Linked DNA regions of Homo sapiens. The protein of the gene in region 1 purifies or fractionates together with the protein of each later gene. This does not show direct contact. Each region holds a gene or a part of one and is shown in the gene's direction. Other genes may lie near its edges.

Region 1 (7,122 bases):
GCCTCCCATGTATCTAGGACTACAGGCACGCACTACCACACCCAGCTAATTTTTTTGATTTTGTGGAGATGTGGTGCAAGAGTGGTCTCACTGTGTTACCCAGGCCAGTCTCCAGCTCTTGAGCTCAAGCAGTCCTCCCAAAGTGGTGGGATTATAGACAGGAGACACCATGACTGGCCTATAACTAGTTTTTATACTTAAGTGGGAAGATTGTTCTTTATGTTCTGATCTCCAAGAACTTTAAATAATTGTATGCTGCTGGCCAAGCATGGTGGCTCATCTCTGTAATCCTAGCACTTTGGGAGGCTGAGACGGGAGGATTGCTTGAGTCCAGAAGTTCAAGACCAGCCTGGGCAAAATGGTGAGACCCTCTCTCTAAAAAAATTTTTAAAAATTAGCCAGGCATGGTGGTGCATGTCTGTAGTCCCAGCTACTCAGGAGGCTGAAGTGGGATGATTGTTTGAGCCCTGGAGGTCAAGGCTGCAGTGAGCCATGATCGTGCCACTGTACTCCCATCTGGGCCATAGAGTGAAACCATGTCTCAAAAAAAAAATTGTATATATATGCAAATTGTAAATGTATGCAAAAATCTCTTAAGTTCTATTGAAGGTATGGAATGAGATAATCAAAGAGTTTCTAATAAGCTCTAAAATGCTTGATTCTATTATACTGTTCATTTCCAGGCCAATTTTTTAAATACAATTTTTCATGAACATAAAATTATGATGTATATATAAATATGTAGTAGAACACGATAGGGTGACTATAGTTAATAATATATTGTATATTTAAAAATACTAAGAGTGAAATTGGAATGTTCCTAACACAAAGAAATGATAAGTGTTTGAAGAGATGGATACCCTAATTACCACAATTTCATCATAACACATTGTATACCTATATCAAAATATCACACATACCCTGTAAATGTATACAACTATTATGTACCCATAATAAAAATTTTTAAAAATGAAAATATACATAGTAGAAAATAAACACGTGCTTTTCATTTTCTTTAAAACCCTTTAAACAGAAAGATGTATTTCAATTAAAAGACTTGGAGAAGATTGCTCCCAAAGAGAAAGGCATTAGTAAGTACCAAAGTTATACTGGAATGTTTTGGGAAATATACTGGGATGTTTTGGGAAATATCTTAATATTCATTAAGTCATCTTTTCTGCAACAGTCTTTCACTTTATGGAAAACCTAAATTTCTAGAGACAAAGAAATCATCACCATCCAAAGATAACCACTGTCATGTTGTCCTTTATTTTTCTGTATAATACATCCTGTATATTACATTTTGAATATATATCCCTGTCATTAAATATCCTTTTATAACATAAATGATTGTATAGTATCCCATTGCAATAAAAAAATACTTTTAAAAATCTAGTTGATAAGCTGGCTGGTAGCGCACACACACTTGTAGTCCCAGCCACTCTGGAGGCTGAAGCGGGAGGATCACTTCAGCCCAGCTAGGCAACATAGCAAAATCCTGTCTTTAAAATAAAAATCCAGTTATTAGACTGGTTTCCAATTCTTTTGCTGTCGAAAACAATGTGTTGACAGGCATCCTTCTACATATCTATTATTTTTTGTTTGGCTGTATTTATAAGGTGGAATTTCCCCAGGAAAGATATGTATAAATTGGGCTGGGCGTGGTGGCTCACGCCTATAATCCCAGCACTTTGGGAGGCCAAGGCAGTTGGATCATGAGGTCAGGAGATCAAGACCATCCTGCCTACTAAAACCCCGTCTCTACTAAAAATACAAAAAAATCTTAGCCGGGCGTGGTGGCAGGCGTCTATAGTCCCAGCTACTCAGGAGGCTGAGGCAGGAGAATGGCGTGAACCCAGGAGGCAGAGCTTGCAGTGAGCCGAGATCGCGCCACTGCACTCCAGCCTGGGTGACAGAGTGAAACTCAGTCTCAAAAAAAAAAAAAAAAAAAAAAAAGATATGTATAAATCTGAAGTTTTAGATACAGATTGCCACGTTTCTCCACCCATACTGAGAGTACCCATTCAAGTATCCTTGAATTCTTTATTGTATTTTTTAGTGTTTTTAATTTGGTAGTCAAGTCATGTCTAATTGCTTTATTTTCGATTTCTTCAGTTATTAATGGGGTTGAACATTTTTCTCATATATTGGCCATGCATATTTTATTTTATTTATTTATTTATTTGTTTATTTATTTATTTGAGACAGAGTCTACTCTGTCACCCAGGCTGGAGCCCAGTGGTCCAGGCTGGAGCCCAGTGGTGCAGTCCTGGCACACTGCAACCTCTGTCTCCCGGGTTCAAGCGATTCTCCTGCCTCAGCCTCATGAGTAGCTGGGATTACAAGCTCCTGCCACCATGCCCACCTAATTTTTGTATTTTTAGTAGAGATGGGGATTTGCCATGTTGGCCAGGCTGTTGTCAAACCGCTGACCTCAAGTGATCTACCTGCCTTGGCCTCCCAAAGTGCTGGGATTACAGGCATGAGCCACCATGCATATTTTATAGATGCACATTGATGTATTTTTTGTGTGTCTTTTGTTGTGTTGTTTCAAAATGAAAAAACCTCTTTTATTATGAGTATACATACAAGTGAAACCAGACAACCACTGAGAGTCCCTCACACTTTTATGTACACCACACAATTATTCTCTTTACAGTCATCAGTGAACAATTGGTTCTGCTACTTCTTAAAGATATGCAAATTTCTTAAGTTTAAATACACAGTTGACCCTGGAACAACACCTATGTTGTTCAAGATTGGGATACCAATCCCCCACACAATTGGAAATCTGCATGTAATTTTTGACTCCCCCAAAACTTAACTACTGATAGCCTGCTGTTGACAGGAAGCCATACCATGTATTTACTATTCATTAAGTGGCAGTGGATCATCATAAAGTTCTTCATCCTTGTCATCTTACATTGAGTAGGCTGAGGAGGAGGAGGAAGTGGTGTTGCTGTCTCAGGTGGCAGAAAATCCATGTATATAACTGGACCCATGCAGTTCAAACCTGTACTGTTCAAGGGTCAACTATACAATATTAATTACACCAGTGTCCTAATGTCCCCAGACAAATTGTAGGTAATGGAATCTCAACTGTATCTTGAAGGATCAAAAACAAAAAACAAAATTCAATCCAGTCTACAAGATGGAAAAATTTATTGTATTAACTAAATTCCTTTTCTTCTTACCTATTTTCCCTCCCAGTTATTGACAATTTTTTTCTGCAGTATAAGATGATGGCCAAATTACCCAACATCTTTTTTAAAAAAGAAACATTATTTAGAAAAGGAAAAGATACCATATAGCAACAGACTATGAGTGTTAACACCATTAAAATTATTTACTAAGCACTGATGCTAGCATCTTCTATTACTAGATAATCTATTGGGAGAGAAAAACTTGCATTTCTGTAGTTTTGTTTTGCTTTTTCAAAGGCTTCTCACAAGTAACATTTTATTGACATTACTGCTATGCACCAAAGTAAGTATGGAAATGATCATATCTAATAGATTTTTTAAATTAGGCATAAAGAACAATTTGCCCTAGAGTCATCCAGTGTTACTGCTAAGAGTTAGGATTAGAACTCAGGTCCTGTTCTTAATCCTGTATATTACTTGTTTTCCCCTAGGCTCCTGTATAAGTCATGCTTTGCTTAAGGATGGGGATACATTCTAAGAAATGTTTCCTTAGGCAGTTTCATTGTTGTGCATGTTGTTATTTTTAAGAGCTTATTAACTTTTTAACTCTTGATTTGTGATATGTTTTGCAAGTGTTTCCCCAGTTATTTGTCCTTTAATTTTATTTATGGTGTTTTTCTAACATAGAGTCTTTAAAAATTGTCTCTTAGCTGCTATGTCAGTAAAAGAAGTCCTTCAAAGCTTAGTTGATGATGGTATGGTTGACTGTGAGAGGATCGGAACTTCTAATTATTATTGGGCTTTTCCAAGTAAAGCTCTTCATGCAAGGAAACATAAGTTGGAGGTTCTGGAATCTCAGGTAAGCTGCCACAGTTAAAAAGAATAGAGTTGCTTTATAACGGAGAGTTGTTTTACTTCATCCTCTTTTTGTTTAGCAGTTTCTTTTGAATTTTTGATATGCATTATTTGACTGAAAGTCTAAAGATAATTAACATCTGTTTCTCCTAAACAATATGAGGAACTTAGAACGTTTTAATTTTCATCTTCCCATATGTCAAGATATTGTTTTTGTTGTTGCTGTTTTTATTGTTTTTTAATTTTCTCTTTATCAATAGATGGTTTTTTGGAAGCAGTTTTAGACTTACAGAAAAATATTGATGGAAAAGTACAGAGAGTTCCCAAACGTGCCCTTTCTCCCTCACCACGCACACAATTTTCCCTGTTATTGACATCCTATACTAGTGTAATATGTTTGTCACAATTGAGTCAATATTGATTTATTACTAACTAAATTCCGTAGCTTACATTAGGGTTCAGTCTTGGTGTTATACATTATGTGAGTTTTGACAAATGCATGATGACGTGTATCCACAATTATAGTATTGTACAGAATAGTTTCACTGCCCTAAAAATCCGCTGTTTCCTACTTGTTCATCCCTCTCTTCTCCCGAAACCGTAGCAACCACTGATCTTTTTACTGTCTCTATAGTTTTACCTTTTCCATATAGTTGGAATCATACAGTATGTAACCTTTTCAGATTGGCTTCCTTCCCTTAACAAAATGCATTTGAGGTTTCTCCATGTCTATTAATGGCTTGATGGCTCATTTCTTTTTATTGCTGAATAATATTTCGTTATATGAATATACCACAGTTTGTTTATCCATTGAGCTATTGAGGAACATCTGGGTCACATCCAAGTTTGGGCAGTTACAAATAAAGCTGCCATAAGCATTCATGTGTAGGTTTTGTGTACACATAAATTTTCAACACATTTAGTACCAAGGAGCGTGATTGCTGGATTGTATGGTAAGTTTATGTTTACTTTCTAGGAAACTGCCAAAGTATCTGTTTTTGCATTCCCAACTACAGTGGGTAAGAGTTACTATTGGTTCACATCACTGCCAGGATTTGGTGTTGTCAGTGTCTTGTATTTTAGCCATTCTAATAGATGTGTAGTGGTATCTCATTGTTGTTTTAAATTGCCATTCTCTAATGACATATGATTTGGAAGATCTTTTTTTTTTTTTTTTTTTTTTTGTGAGACGGAGTTTCACTTTTTTTGACCAGGCTGGAGTGCAATGGTGCGATCTCAGCTCACTGTAACTTCTGCCTCCCTGGTTCAAGTGATTCTCCTGCCTCAGCCTTCCAAGTAGCTGGGGTTACAGGTGCACACCACCACACCCAACTAATTTTGTATTTTTAGTAGAGACGGGGTTTCACCATGATGGCCAAGCTGGTCTTGAACTCCTGACCTCAGGTGATCCACCCACCTTGGCCTCCCAAAGTGCTGGGATTACAGGCATGAGCCACCACACCCAGCCCTGGAACATCTTTTTTTATGCTTATTTGTCATCTATGTAAAAGGAGGTGTTTAGATCTTTTGCCCATTTTTCAATTGGGTTTTTGTTTTCTCGTTATTGAGTTTTAAGAGTTCTTTGTATATTTTGGACACCAGTTCTTTATCAAATATGTGTTTTTCAAAGATTTCCTCTGAGTCTGTGACTTATCTTTTCATTATCTCAACAGCATCTTTCACAGAGCAGTTTTCAATTTTAATGAAGTCCAACTGGTCAATTTTTTTCTTTCCTGGGACATTCTTTTGGTGTTGTAACTAAATAGTCGTGGCCAAATCCAGGGGCATGTAGATTTTCTCCTATGTTACCTTCTAGGAGTTTTGTAGTTTTGCATTTTACACTTAGATTTATTATCCATTTTGAGTTAATTTTTGGGAAAGGTGTAAAGTGTGTGTCTAAATTCAATTTTTTGTACATACATGTCCAAAGTAACTGTATTTTAGTATAATTTACTTCTTTTCTGTATGTGTGTGTGTGTGTGTGTGTGTATATATATATACACATAAAAATACACACATATATACACAAAAATATATAAATATTTTTATATAAATAAATAAATAAATAAATACTATAAATATTTTTGTGTGTGTGTGAGACAGGGTCTTGCTTTGTGTGTATATGTATATACACATATATACACACATATACATATACACATATATACACATATATTCATATATACACATATATACATATATACACATATATATACACATGTATATATAACTACTAAAGTACCCAGGGTCTTGCTTTGTCACCCAGTCTGGAGTGTAGTGTCGCAAACATGGCTCACTGCAGCCTCGACCTCCCAGGCCCAAGCCATCCTCCCGCCTCAGCCTCCTGAGTAGCTGGGATTATAGGCACACCACCAAACTCTGCTAATTTTTGCACTTTTTTGTAGAGACAGGGTATTGCCATGTTGCCCAGGCTGGTCTTGAACTCCTGAACTCAAGTGATCCACCTACCTCAGCTTCCCAAAGTGCTGGTGGGTGAGCCACTGCGACCGGCCTGTAACCCTGTGCACTTTATGGATTTAAAAACACTTCAAGAAGGAATCCGTACTGAAGGACATCCTTTAGTAATTTGTTCAGCCAGAGTTTAAGAGTGGTAAACTCTCAATCTTTGTTTGAAAATGTCTAATTTATCATTGCTTCCCGAATATAGAATTCTTAGTTATTTTTCCTCAGCATTTTGAAAATATTACTTCATTGTCTTGTGGCATATGTTGCTAATGAGATGTTTTGCTATCATTCTGATTGTCTTGTTTTCCTTAGTAATCTCTCTTCTGTTTGCTTTTAAGATTTCCTTCAGTCTTTGATGTTATGTTTTGATGTTTTATCATGAATCCGAGTTTGCATGTTTTTATTTCCTCTTCTTTAGGACCCTGGCTGCTGCTTCCATGAAATAATTAAAGTCTCCTATTATAGAAAATTCTGGCTGGGCGCAGTGGCTCACGCCTGTAATCCCAGCACTTTGGGAGGCTGAGGCGGGCAGATCACGAGGTCAGGAGATCAAGACCATCCTGGCTAACACGGTGAAACCCTGTCCACTAAAAATACAAAAAAAATAGCCGGGCGTGGTGGTGGGTGCCTGTAGTCCCAGCTACTGGGGAGGCTGGGG
Region 2 (7,122 bases), on another chromosome or scaffold:
GCCAGAGTGAGAGTCCCCAACTTAGCATAAATGAGCACCAGGGTGAGAGTCCCCAAATTAGCAGAGGTCAGGGCAAGAGCAAGAGTCTATGATGGCAAAAGTCGGAACCGGAGCAAGAGTCCCCAACATGGCAAAGGTCAAGGCCAGAGCAAGAGTCCCCAACATAGCAGGAGCCAGAGCAAGAGTCCCAGCGAGGCAAAAGTCACAGAGCAAGAGTCCTCACCATAACAAGAAATGAGGGCCAGAGCAAAAGTTCTGACCAGACCAAAAATCTAGGCCAGAGCAAGGCATAGATAGTAACAAGATTGCCAGCTATAGCAAGCATCCCAGCTGCAGCAACCAGGACCGACTTGTGCACTCCTCATCTGAAGTCTTCATTTCTCTTTTACTCTGCCTCCTTGTTCTTGTCCTCTTGTCCCCTGCTACCCCCATAGCAGTCATCCTAGAAGTCCCTGTTTTGGTTCACACCTCAAGATTCTGTGGGCCCTCCTTATCCAACCTTTCTGGGGTCTGGGAACTCTCCCAGCATGACCCTCAAACCTCTGATTCTAAGCATGGTGGTGCTAGTCACTGTGTGACGCTAGGTAAGTTACCCACATCTCTTCATCAAATTGAAATGTTGTTAATTTTTTTTTGTATCTTACTGAGCTATCAGTTGTAGTGCTCACATAAGCTAGTAGACATGAAAGTGCTTTGAAAATAGAACTGTTCAGAAGAAAAGGGCCTTTTGCTTTTAAGTTCAAAGCTTCCCAGAGCCTCCATAGTTTCTCCTAATCTTCTGCAGGCTCTCCTCAAGAGTCCTCTCCTGAGCTCCCATATTCCTAAGTTCCTCTTTCTCCAAGGTCCCCCTTCTTGATGACCCCCGCACAGTACCGTGAGAGTTACATCTTTATCTGACAACCCTGGGATGGGAAGGCCCACTCTCCACTACTTTTCCCTCTCACACTTCTCTGGCAGGCAGGCAGGATGCAAAAGCAGGAGTGGGCACTAGCTGGATCCAAGTTTGCCCCTAGGCTCTGAGGTGGGGGTCAGGTAGTAGGGGGTAGAGTCAAGACTGGGAAAACCAATAAGCCTGTCCTCTCTCTTTTAGGCTGCCACAGAGCCCAAATTCCCTGCTGTTCGACTGGCTTTGCAGAATTTTGACATGACTTACAGTGTGCAGTTTGGAGATCTTTGGCCATCAATCCGTGTCAGTCTCCTCTCAGAGCAGAAGTATGGTGCACTGGTCAATAACTTTGCTGCCTGGGATCATGTAAGTGCTAAGCTGGAGCAGCTGAGTGCCAAGGATTTTGTGAATGAAGCCATCTCCCACTGGGAACTGCAGTCTGAGGGTGGCCAATCTGCAGCCCCATCCCCTGCCTCCTGGGCCTGCAGTCCGAACCTTCGATGCTTCACTTTTGACAGAGGGGATATCAGTCGCTTCCCTCCTGCCAGGTAGGATCTGGAGCCATGACTGGAGCGGTCCTGAGTGTCTGCTGGAAGTAGACATGTTGAGACCCAGCTTCTACCCTCTGTAATAAGGACCATAATATTGCTAATATTTATGGCATGTTTATACAGACTAGGCATTTTTTTGAGGTGCTGTACATATGTTATCTCTTTTTGTTCTGTCAGCAGCCTTATGAAGTAGGTAATATTATTGCTGTTTTACATTTGGAGAAACTGAGGTACAGAGAAGTTAAGATTCTTACTTGCTTTAGGTCCCTCAGATGGTAAGTGGTGTGACTAATATTTAGACCCAGAACCTGCACTTTGAACCCACTCTGCTCTGTGCCTCTGGTAGAAAACAGCCACCTTTTACATGAGCACTCACTGGGCCCTCTCAAGTTGAAATGTGTTATTCACAGCAGTCTTCTCATTTTGCCCTCACAGCCACCCATCAAAGTGAATAGGAAAAGTAACTTCATGGTAGCAAAGAGGTAGTGGGACTTTCCTAGGAAATAGGGCTGGTCTAGGGGCACAAACTTGGTATTAGACTGGGAAAAAGAAAGGAGAAGTTCAGTTTCTTGATTCAATCCTCATGTATATGAAGTTGAATGAGAAAAGACTGCAGAATCAAATGCTGAATTATGCTTTAACAATTAAGGAGAGCTCAATGTTAGTTGTAGGGTATGGGAATTGATTTTTGAAAGACTGATTTATTTATTAAAAAATATTGGCCGGGTGTGGTGGCTCACGCCTTTAATCCTAGCACTTTGTGAGGCTGAGGCGGGCGGATTGCCTGAGCTCAGGAGTTTGAGACCAGCCTGGGCAACATGATGAAACCCTGTCTCTACTAAAATACAAAAAAATTAGCTGGGTGTGGTGGCGTGCGCCTGTAGTCCCAGCTACTTGGGAGGCTGAGGCAGGAGAATTGCTTGAACCCAGGAGGTGGAGGTTGCAGTGAGCTGAGATCGTGCCACCGTACTCCAGTCTGGGCGACAGAGCGAGACTCTGTCTCAAAAAAAAAAAAAAAAAAAATTATCTACCAAATGCTAGGCATTTAAGTGCCTTGATGAACAAGCCCTCATAGAGCTTCCAGTTTAGTGAGGAAGACAGCTATTTAAAAACAATAATTGGCCAGGCACAGTGGTTCACACCTGTAATCCCAGCACTTTGGGAGGCCGAGGCGGGCAGATCATCTGAGGTTAGGAGTTCAAGACCAGCCTGGCCAAAATGGTGAAACCCCATCTCTACTAAAAAATACAAAAAATTAGCTGGGCATGGTGGCACAAGCCTGTAATCCCAGCTACTTGGGAGGCTGAGGCAGGAGAATCACTTGAATCTGGGAGGCAGAGGTTGCAGTGAGCCAAGATTGCGCCACCGCACTCCAGCCTGGGCAACAGAGCGAGACTGTGTCTCAAAAAAAAAAAAAAAAAAAAAAATTAGCCAGGCATGGTGGCGGGCACCTGTAATCCCAGATATTCAGGAGGCTGAGACGGGAGAATCACTTGAACCTGGGAGGTGGAGGTTGCAGCGAGACGAGATCGTGCCACTGCGCTTCAGCCTGGGTAACAAAAGTGAAACTCCGTCAGTCAATCAATCAGTAAATAAATAATCATTCTGGCTCCCGTATAGATGAATGAATAAGTGAATAAGTAAGTGTGGGTCTGAAAAATGAGTTTTTGGTGATTGGAGCTCAAGCCCCAGAGGGCATAGACTTGGTGGCCTAGACTCCCAGTGGGTGTCCTGACCTGGAATTTAACAATAAAGTGGTCTCCTCTTTTCCAGACCTGGCAGCCTGGGTGTCATGGAGTACTACCTGATGGATGCTGCCTCCTTGCTGCCTGTTCTGGCCCTCGGCCTGCAGCCTGGGGACATCGTGCTTGACCTATGTGCAGCTCCTGGGGGAAAGACACTAGCGTTGCTTCAGACTGGCTGTTGCCGTAAGTCAGGGTGCTGGTGTGTTGGGCAGAGAGAGCTCCCCACCTCACCTAGTCCCAGGTACATTTAATATGGTAGGTTCGGCCAGGCGCAGTGGCTCCCGCCTGTAATCCCAGCACTTTGGGAAGCCGAGGGAGGCGGACCACCTGATGTCAGGAGTTCCAGACCAGCCTGGTCAACATGGTGAAACACCATCTCTACTAAAAATACATAAATTAGCTGGGTGTGGTGGTGCACTCCTGTAATACCAGCTACTCAGGAGGCTGAGGCAGGAGAATTGCTTGAACCCGGGAAGTGGAGGTTACAATGAGCTGAGATCCTGCCACTGCACTCCAGCCTTGGCGACAGAGTGAAACCCTGTCTCACACACACACAAAAAAAGAATATGGTAGGTTCTCTAGTCCCAAAGTCAGAGTGGAGGGTAGTACTTACTTTCTAAGCTTGTGTATTTTTTCATTAGTTCCTCTCTTTCTCTGTCAATTGGTCAAGAAAGATTGCTGAGCAAGTTCTCTGAAGTCAGATTGAAGTAGGGCTCTGATCAGTTGATCACATGATACACACTCCTCTTCATCTGTTTACTTTTCCTCTAAGATTAAGCCCATTTCTTTAGCCTACCAACTAAAATGATAAGATCTGCCTGCAGCCACCATTTATATGCTTTATATGTCACTCTTCTAGGCTTTATGTGCTTTAACCTTACTCTGCTACTCTCTGTTGCCTTTGCTCTTGTTAAATTTTCTCCCTGGAATTCCCTCACCCTTGGCTGTCCAAATCCTTTTGACTTTCTTTTTTTTTTTCTTTCTTTTTTTTTCTCTTTTTTTCGAGATGGAGTCTCACTCTGTCACCCAGGTTGGAGTGCAGTGGCACGACCTCGGCTCACTGCAAGCTCCGCCTCCTGGGTTCACGCCATTCTCCTGCCTCAGCCTCCCTACTAGCTAGGACTACAGGCGCCCACCACCACGCCCAGCTAATTTGTTTTTGTACTTTTAGTAGAGACAGGGTTTCACCCTGTTAGCCAGGATGGTCTCAATCTCCTGACCTTGTGATCTGCCCGCCTAGGCCTCCCAAATTGCTGGGATTACAGGCATGAGCCACCGCGCCCGGCCCCTTGTGTCAAGTACTCACTTCAGCCATCCACTGGCTGATATCCTGCCTGCCCAGTCATCCTTTTGACTTTCAAGCCTCAGCTCAAGTGTGCCACCTCCTGGACGTCTGTCCTTACGACCTCTGCTGGCCGGTTCAGAAATGATGCCTGTCTCCTACGCTCCCACAGCATGGGTATCGCCCTTGCAACATTAGCCTTGCCTTAGGGCTTTACTAGTTATATATCTTCTCCCTCTTAAAGATGATGGATTCTGGCCGGGCACGGTGGCTCACGCCTATAATTCCAGCACTTTGGAAGGCTGAGGCGGGTGGATCACCTGAGGTCAGGAGTTCAAGACAAGCCTGGCTAACATGGTAAAACCCCGTTTCTATTAAAAATACAAAAAATTAGCCGGGCCTGGTGGTGGGCTAATCCCAACTACTTGGGAGGCTGAGGCAGGAAAATCGCTTGAACCTGGGAGATGGAGGTTGCAGTGAGCTGAGATCACGCCATTGCACTTCCGCTTGGGCAACAAGAGCAAAACTCTGTCTCAAAAAAAAAAAAAAAAAAAAAAAAAAAGTGGATTCCTTGGGGATAGGCCCACATCTTATTTGTCTCAGTAAAGTAGCCCAGCGAAGGCCTTGTGCACTGTTTTTTTTTTTTTTTTTTTTTTTTGAGAAGAAGTTTCGCTTTTCTACCCAAGCTGGAGTGCAGTGGCACGATCTTAGCTCAATACAACCTTCGCCTTCTGGTTCCAAGCAATTCTCTTGCCTCAGCCTCCTGAGTAGCTGGGATTACAGGCACCCACCACCACACCCGGATAATTTTTGTATTTTTAGTAGAGATGGGGTTTCACCATGTTGGCCAGGCTGGTCTCGAATTCCTGACCTCGCAATCCACCCACCTCGGCCTCCCAAAGTGCTGAGATTACAGGTGTGAACCACCGCGCCCAGTCTTGTGCACTGTTTTTTTTGGTTTGTTTTTTTGTTTTTTTTTTTTTGAGACGGAGTCTTGTTCTGTCACCCAGGCTGGAGTGCAGTGGCGTGATCTCGGCTCACTGCAAACTCCGCCTCCCGGGTTCATGCCATTCTCCTGCCTCAGCCTCCCAGATAGCTGGGACCACGGGCACCCGCCACCATGCCCGGCTAATTTTTTTGTATTTTTAGTAGAGATAGGGTTTCACCGTGTTAGCCAGGATGGTCTTGATCTCCTGACCTCGTGATCCGCCCACCTTGGCCTCCCAAAGTGCTGGGATTACAGGCGTGAGCCACCGCGCCTGGCGCCTTGTGCACTGTTAAGTACTCACTTCAGCCATCCACTGGCCGATATCCTGCCTTAAAATAGATAGTTTTTTTCCTTTGGCCCCTGACAAAGGGCCGTAATTTACACACCTAACCTGGAGCTCAGCCAGGCTTCTCTTGCCGTGTGCCCAAGCCCTTCTGTTGGACCTAGACCCTTCTTTTCCAGGTCTTGTCAGCCAGCTTGCACAGTTTGAGTCAGCATCCAGCCTTATGATAGGCATTGGTTGATTCAGAGAGATATCACATTCGGTCATAGCCTTCTGGAAGTCCAGAGGGAGAGAAGAAAAGGTGGGGTCATGGGCTTAATGAATCCAATGCAAGAGAGCCCAGCCTGTGTGCTGGACAATTCTTATCTGACTGAATGCTGTGGGAATCCATTAGAAGGGAGATGAGTAAGGGTAGGGTTACTTGGAGGAGGAGGAACTTGAACTAGGAGGAGGAAGAAGGGCAAAGAAGAAGTAATTGAGAGTTGTTCTTCTAAGGCATGCTTAACTATCAGCACCTCACCTTCATCCCAGCTCCTCATCAAGCGACAACTCTTGATCCGAGGAAAACGGGATCACAGAATTTGTATAAGAAGGGAAATTAGTGTTTACTTAGTCTAGCCCTCATATTTTATGGAGGGAGAAATTGAGTTCTGTGGAGATTAAATAAATAATACAAGAATTGGAGGTAGAGCCAGAACTGGAACCCATCTTTCTTTTTCTCAGTTCATATCCTTCTGCAAATTCCTCTAGAGCAGAGAATACAATTTTTACTTCTTTGAGTGCCCTCAAAAATGGAGACATTGGCCGGGGGGCGGTGACTCACGCCTGTAATCCCAGCACAAGCTAGGAGGCTGAGGCAGGTGGAATACTTGAGTCCAGGAGTTCGAGACTAGCCTGGGCAACATAGACCTCATCTTCATTAAAATAAAAAAAAAGGAGACATTTATTTATGGGATTACTAAGCTGGTTCATAGTAGTGACCACTATTAGATAAGGTGGACACTTGCATCTCGCATTCTTTACCATTCCCACCCTACCTTGTTGTTCTTTGACTCAGAGGCCAGGTATCAAGTGTCATTTATCATCAAGCTTGCAATATTTTTCTCATAGTAGCACTAAGAGCAAAGTGAGATATTTCTTGAACTCATGTCTACCAATAAAGAGAAAATGAAAGGTAGATGGTAAATCAGAATTAGGTTTGGTTGCATTTGATAGAAAACCTAACTAATTGGCTTAAAGAGGAAACATTAATTTATCTCTTACATAAGAGAAGCTGAGATATAGGCACTCCAGGTATGGAGGCTCCACAATTATCAGGGACTTAAGCTCCCTTTTTCCTTTTGCAACGTATTTTGTTGCTAGTGTCAGCCTTAGCCTCCCTCCCTTT
Region 3 (4,339 bases), on another chromosome or scaffold:
GGGTTCAAGATCAGCCTGGCCAACATGGTGAAACCCTGACTCAACTAAAAATAGAAAAATTAGCTGGGCTTGGTGGCACGCACCTGTAATTCCAGCTACTTGGGAGGCTGAGGCATGAAAATCGCTTGAACCCAGGAGGCGGAGGTTGCAGTGAGCTGAGATGGCGCCACTGCACTCCAGCCTGGGTGACAGCAAGGCTGTCTCAAAAAAAAAAAAAAAGATTTTATATAGTGTGACAGGAGCCAGAGGTGGGGAAAGAGCAGCCTAAGGTGAGATGGATTAGGGGAGGTTTCTGAGTATGTCAGTGTTCCTGGAGAGGACTGTATAATTTGGCTTGGAGGTGAGGAATAGGAGTGGCTTTCTGTGCAGAATACATTTTGAGAGGGAAGGAGGAGGAGTTAAGACTAGAAGAAAAAATTGAGTGCCAGGGCAGAGACTCTTGTCTGCCTTGTTCACCGTGGGATCTTCAGCACCTAGTGCAGTGGTGGGCATATGGTATGTGTTCAGTGGGTTGATGCTGATAATGTGATGTTGATAAATATGTGTACATATAGCATTTGATGTTTAAATCAACATGAAATGGTCTTAGTGCTCTGTCTCTGTGATGTGATGTCAAACCAACATCTCTTGTAAAGACTTAGATTCTAGTCGAGTGTTTAGATTTACTCTGGAACATGAGAGATCTGGCCAGGTTCCTGGGATACTCGTGGAGTGGCCTTCCCTTCTATTTATCCCCCACTCCTGCCCCCAACAATATTCACATCTCAAGGATGCTCAAAGTTCCTTGAATCTCTTTAAGGGCCTTCTGGAGGAGTTGGGGGTCTCCAAGGACCCTTACCCACTTTGACCAGAGGAGTTCCACTATTATTTCTTTGCATTATTGACTCTTCCTGGTAAGATGTTTTTTGAGGCAGTGGTAGAAGGTTTAGGATCCACCATTTCACAGCATCTCTACAGGCCTCCTTCTCTAGAAGATAAGAAAAAGGTAGCCTTGTATATTTTTCTTAACAGATTCTTACAGTGTAATCTAAAAGTCTAAATATATTATGTGTGGTGGTGATTAATTAGCAAACTCAGCACAGCCTTAAGAAATGAAGATAAACCTAAACTGAAATTCCTCACATATTAAGATAATCACTAACTCAAATGTTAGGAAAATTTTAATTAACAGTTTAAATAGTTGACTTTAAGTTTCCCATTACTGAATTTTGCTCAGCTATCCCTAGGAAGGCCTGGAATAGTCCCAGTTTACACCAGTTAGTGCGGTTTTAATAGGGCCTCTTTCACTCAAGGTGCCCTGGCTTGGAGAAGATATATGGTGACCCTGGTAACCAGGACGTCAGCATTGGTGTTGTGTGTCCTCATGATTACTATTATTGTTATTACTGTTATGATGACGATGGTGATGGAACTCCTTTTCATTGAGTTCAGCTTGAGAATGTTAGTTGTGAATGCTTCAATGACTATTTTATTATAGAAGGAAACATCAACCCAAACCAGCAATATGGAGGAAACTACTCTCCCATATTACTCTCTGATCTTTCCAGTAAATGCCTGGGAAATTCTTTTCCAAGTGAGGAGGGCAAGAGGAGACCCAAAATACAAAGTTGGCACCTTTCAGGTGGGAGGCCAGAATAAAGCAGGAATATAGGGAGGGAAGGATGGTGAGTCTGAGGAGTGTCAGGAAGTCAGTGGGGAGATGTATCATTTCCATGGTGCTTCTGGGAAGATAGATCTGAAATTGCCACTTGCTCTGTGGAAGGAGAGGATCCTTGTTTGTTTTTAAATGTGGACTTAAATTGGGTGCAGCTAGCTCCTTGAGTTTCTGGAGTATCCTGAAATTATATGCTTGCCTTTTTTGAATGTTCTGCAGGGAAATTAAAGAGGGTGCTTTACTGTTGCCCTGAAATTTTCACCATGCGCCAGCAGGACATTAACGACACTGTCAGGCTTCTCAAGGAGAAGTGCCTTTTCACGGTACAGCAAGTCACCAAGATTTTGCACAGTTGCCCCTCTGTTCTTCGAGAGGACCTGGGTCAACTGGAATACAAGTTTCAGGTGAGAATGACTGATAGCGTGATTAGCGTAGTTTCAGGTGAGAATGACTGGTAATGGGATTAGCGTAGTTTCAGGTGAGAATGACTGGTACCGTGATTAGTGTAGTAACAGCAAGTTTCTCAGGTTTTTCAAATGTAGTGAAGGTCAGTTATATGGATAAGAAGCCTCGGACACCTCATATTTGAGTGGAGGAAGTGAAAGACTAGATTCTCTGCATACATCAGCCAAAGAGAAATCTTTAATTTCTTTACTACAGATCAAACCTATTCTTCAACTTTTCTGCCATTAATAATGAATGATCCAGTCCTATTCTTAGAGTCTAAGTGGGGACTCTGAAATAGCTAATTTTAAAATAGCTGAAACCTTCCTGTCCTTAGAATCTATTTTGCATGTTGATTTTGAAAATGTAATTTTAACAGTTGTCCGATTTTTTGGTAATAATTATGACAACTTAGGTCGAATTTCTAGATGTTTTCTGAATGTTTTGCCTATTCTTTCCATATTCATCCTTTTCCTTCCCCATTTAAAGAAAAATACCACCTCTTCCTTCTGCCCCTTCTCCCTCCTGCCCCTTTTCCCTCCCACCCCTTTATTTCCTGCTCCATGTTTCTCAGGATGAATTTGAAAGTGTTTTGAAACTGCTGGCTGTCACACAAATGTCAGTATCCTAGACTGGGTATTCGCTGTTGTCAATTAGGCAATTCTTTTTGAATCCTTTTGTACAACTTAAGTTTTTATGGTTTATAGAATGATAGGTTTCAATACTCTGTATCTGGGACTCCTAAGTGTGTTTGTGTCTTCCAGTATGCATACTTCAGGATGGGAATTAAGCATCCAGACATTGTAAAGAGTGAGTACTTGCAGTATTCACTAACCAAGATTAAGCAGAGACACATTTACCTGGAGCGCCTGGGACGGTACCAAACCCCTGATAAGAAGGGGCAGACACAGATCCCTAACCCATTGCTCAAGGACATTCTCAGAGTTTCAGAAGCTGAGTTTTTGGCCAGGACAGCCTGTACTTCTGTTGAGGAGTTTCAAGTTTTTAAGAAGCTCCTGGCTCGGGAGGAGGAGGAGTCTGAGAGCAGCACATCTGATGACAAAAGGGCAAGTCTGGATGAGGATGAGGATGACGATGATGAGGAGGACAATGATGAGGATGACAATGATGAGGATGACGATGATGAGGACGACGACGAGGCGGAGGACAATGATGAGGATGAGGACGACGACGAGGAGGAATAGCTGTGATGGAAGGACTAGAGCGAAAGGGCCCAGAGATATCAAGGAAGCTTTTCATTCTCTTAAAGCTTTTGGGTCCTTTACTTGAATCTTCTCAAGTTATTTTTTATTCTAAAACTGGTCTCTTGATGAAAAAAATTATAAGTCACCTGAGAGGCAGACAGATCAAACCAAACAGGAAACAGGAAATGCATGTTTGATCTGTTGTCACGTGTCTGTGGGGAGGGCCCTGTCCCATCCTGAATAAGATACTTATGTTGAGCTATTCACATCAAGGGGACTCAATATATCAACAATTGGTTTTATTTTTTTCTCTTTTGAATATGTTGGTGATAATTCCGTGACAGTTGGAAGATGGGGTTCATTCTTCCGGTTCAGGAATCACTATGTATTTCCTTCTTGTGATAAAAATAAAATTACGAGAAGGCAATGTGAGGTTTTAGTACATCATAGCACTTTATTTTATGAAAACATGTAGCAGATTTTCCACAAAAATGCTTATTTTTAATCCAAAAGTATATTGCTTCATAATGGTATTCAGTGCACAGCAGAGTAAAAGAAGTTAATTCATGATGTACTGGTTAATTTTGCATGGCTTCTTAAGGCCAGCAAAATGCTGGCAGTTTTCTTTATCTTTGTGAAGAACAGGCCCTTCCTGTTTGGGGAAGTTGGCTTTTATGTCAGCTCTTGGCCAGTGGTCACTTCCAAGCCTGGTGTCTCCGGCCCTGTAGTCTGTAGTGCCAGACTGTGCTGGCCTGGAGAGTGCTGGGGCAGGTGGAGGCCAGGGAATGGTCCCATACAGTTATCTCCCCTGCCCTGGTTACAGACAGCTTCGAGAACCAGAGGAGAAGAGCATAGGGTCATGGAGCAGGTGGGCTGAAGCCAGGGCCACAGGGAGCAATCCGTGACCCCCCAAGGTGGGTGTGGGGGGGGGGGGGGGCGTGTCACCTTAGGGAACTCAATGAGTCCGAAGAACAATTTGAAATGTTGGGAAAAGAGAAGAGGAATTTGATGTCAGCCGGGGTGATCCCTGAGATAG

The links.
Region 2: the proteins of MND1 (region 1) and NSUN4 purify together in Homo sapiens (affinity purification with mass spectrometry; 2 studies listed by BioGRID and IntAct, with this or other methods). This does not show direct contact.
Region 3: the proteins of MND1 (region 1) and MTERF4 purify together in Homo sapiens (affinity purification with mass spectrometry; 2 studies listed by BioGRID and IntAct, with this or other methods). This does not show direct contact.

What each region holds. Positions count from the first base shown.
Region 1 is NC_000004.12:153,354,621-153,361,742, forward strand, and holds part of MND1 (meiotic nuclear division protein 1 homolog), read left to right. Parts: intron 1-1,033; coding exon 1,034-1,091; intron 1,092-3,853; coding exon 3,854-4,002; intron 4,003-6,882; coding exon of another isoform or gene 6,883-6,987; exon of another isoform or gene 6,988-7,122. UniProt on the Homo sapiens protein: Required for proper homologous chromosome pairing and efficient cross-over and intragenic recombination during meiosis.
Region 2 is NC_000001.11:46,343,711-46,350,832, forward strand, and holds part of NSUN4 (5-cytosine rRNA methyltransferase NSUN4), read left to right. Parts: exon of another isoform or gene 1-584; intron 585-1,090; coding exon 1,091-1,434; intron 1,435-3,210; coding exon 3,211-3,365; exon of another isoform or gene 3,366-3,423; intron 3,424-7,122. UniProt on the Homo sapiens protein: Mitochondrial RNA cytosine C(5)-methyltransferase that methylates cytosine to 5-methylcytosine (m5C) in various RNAs, such as rRNAs, mRNAs and some long non-coding RNAs (lncRNAs).
Region 3 is NC_000002.12:241,094,962-241,099,300, reverse strand, and holds the end of MTERF4 (transcription termination factor 4, mitochondrial), read left to right. Parts: intron 1-1,873; coding exon 1,874-2,058; intron 2,059-2,862; coding exon 2,863-3,303; 3' UTR 3,304-3,730; downstream 3,731-4,339. UniProt on the Homo sapiens protein: Regulator of mitochondrial ribosome biogenesis and translation. Binds to mitochondrial ribosomal RNAs 16S, 12S and 7S and targets NSUN4 RNA methyltransferase to the mitochondrial large ribosomal subunit (39S).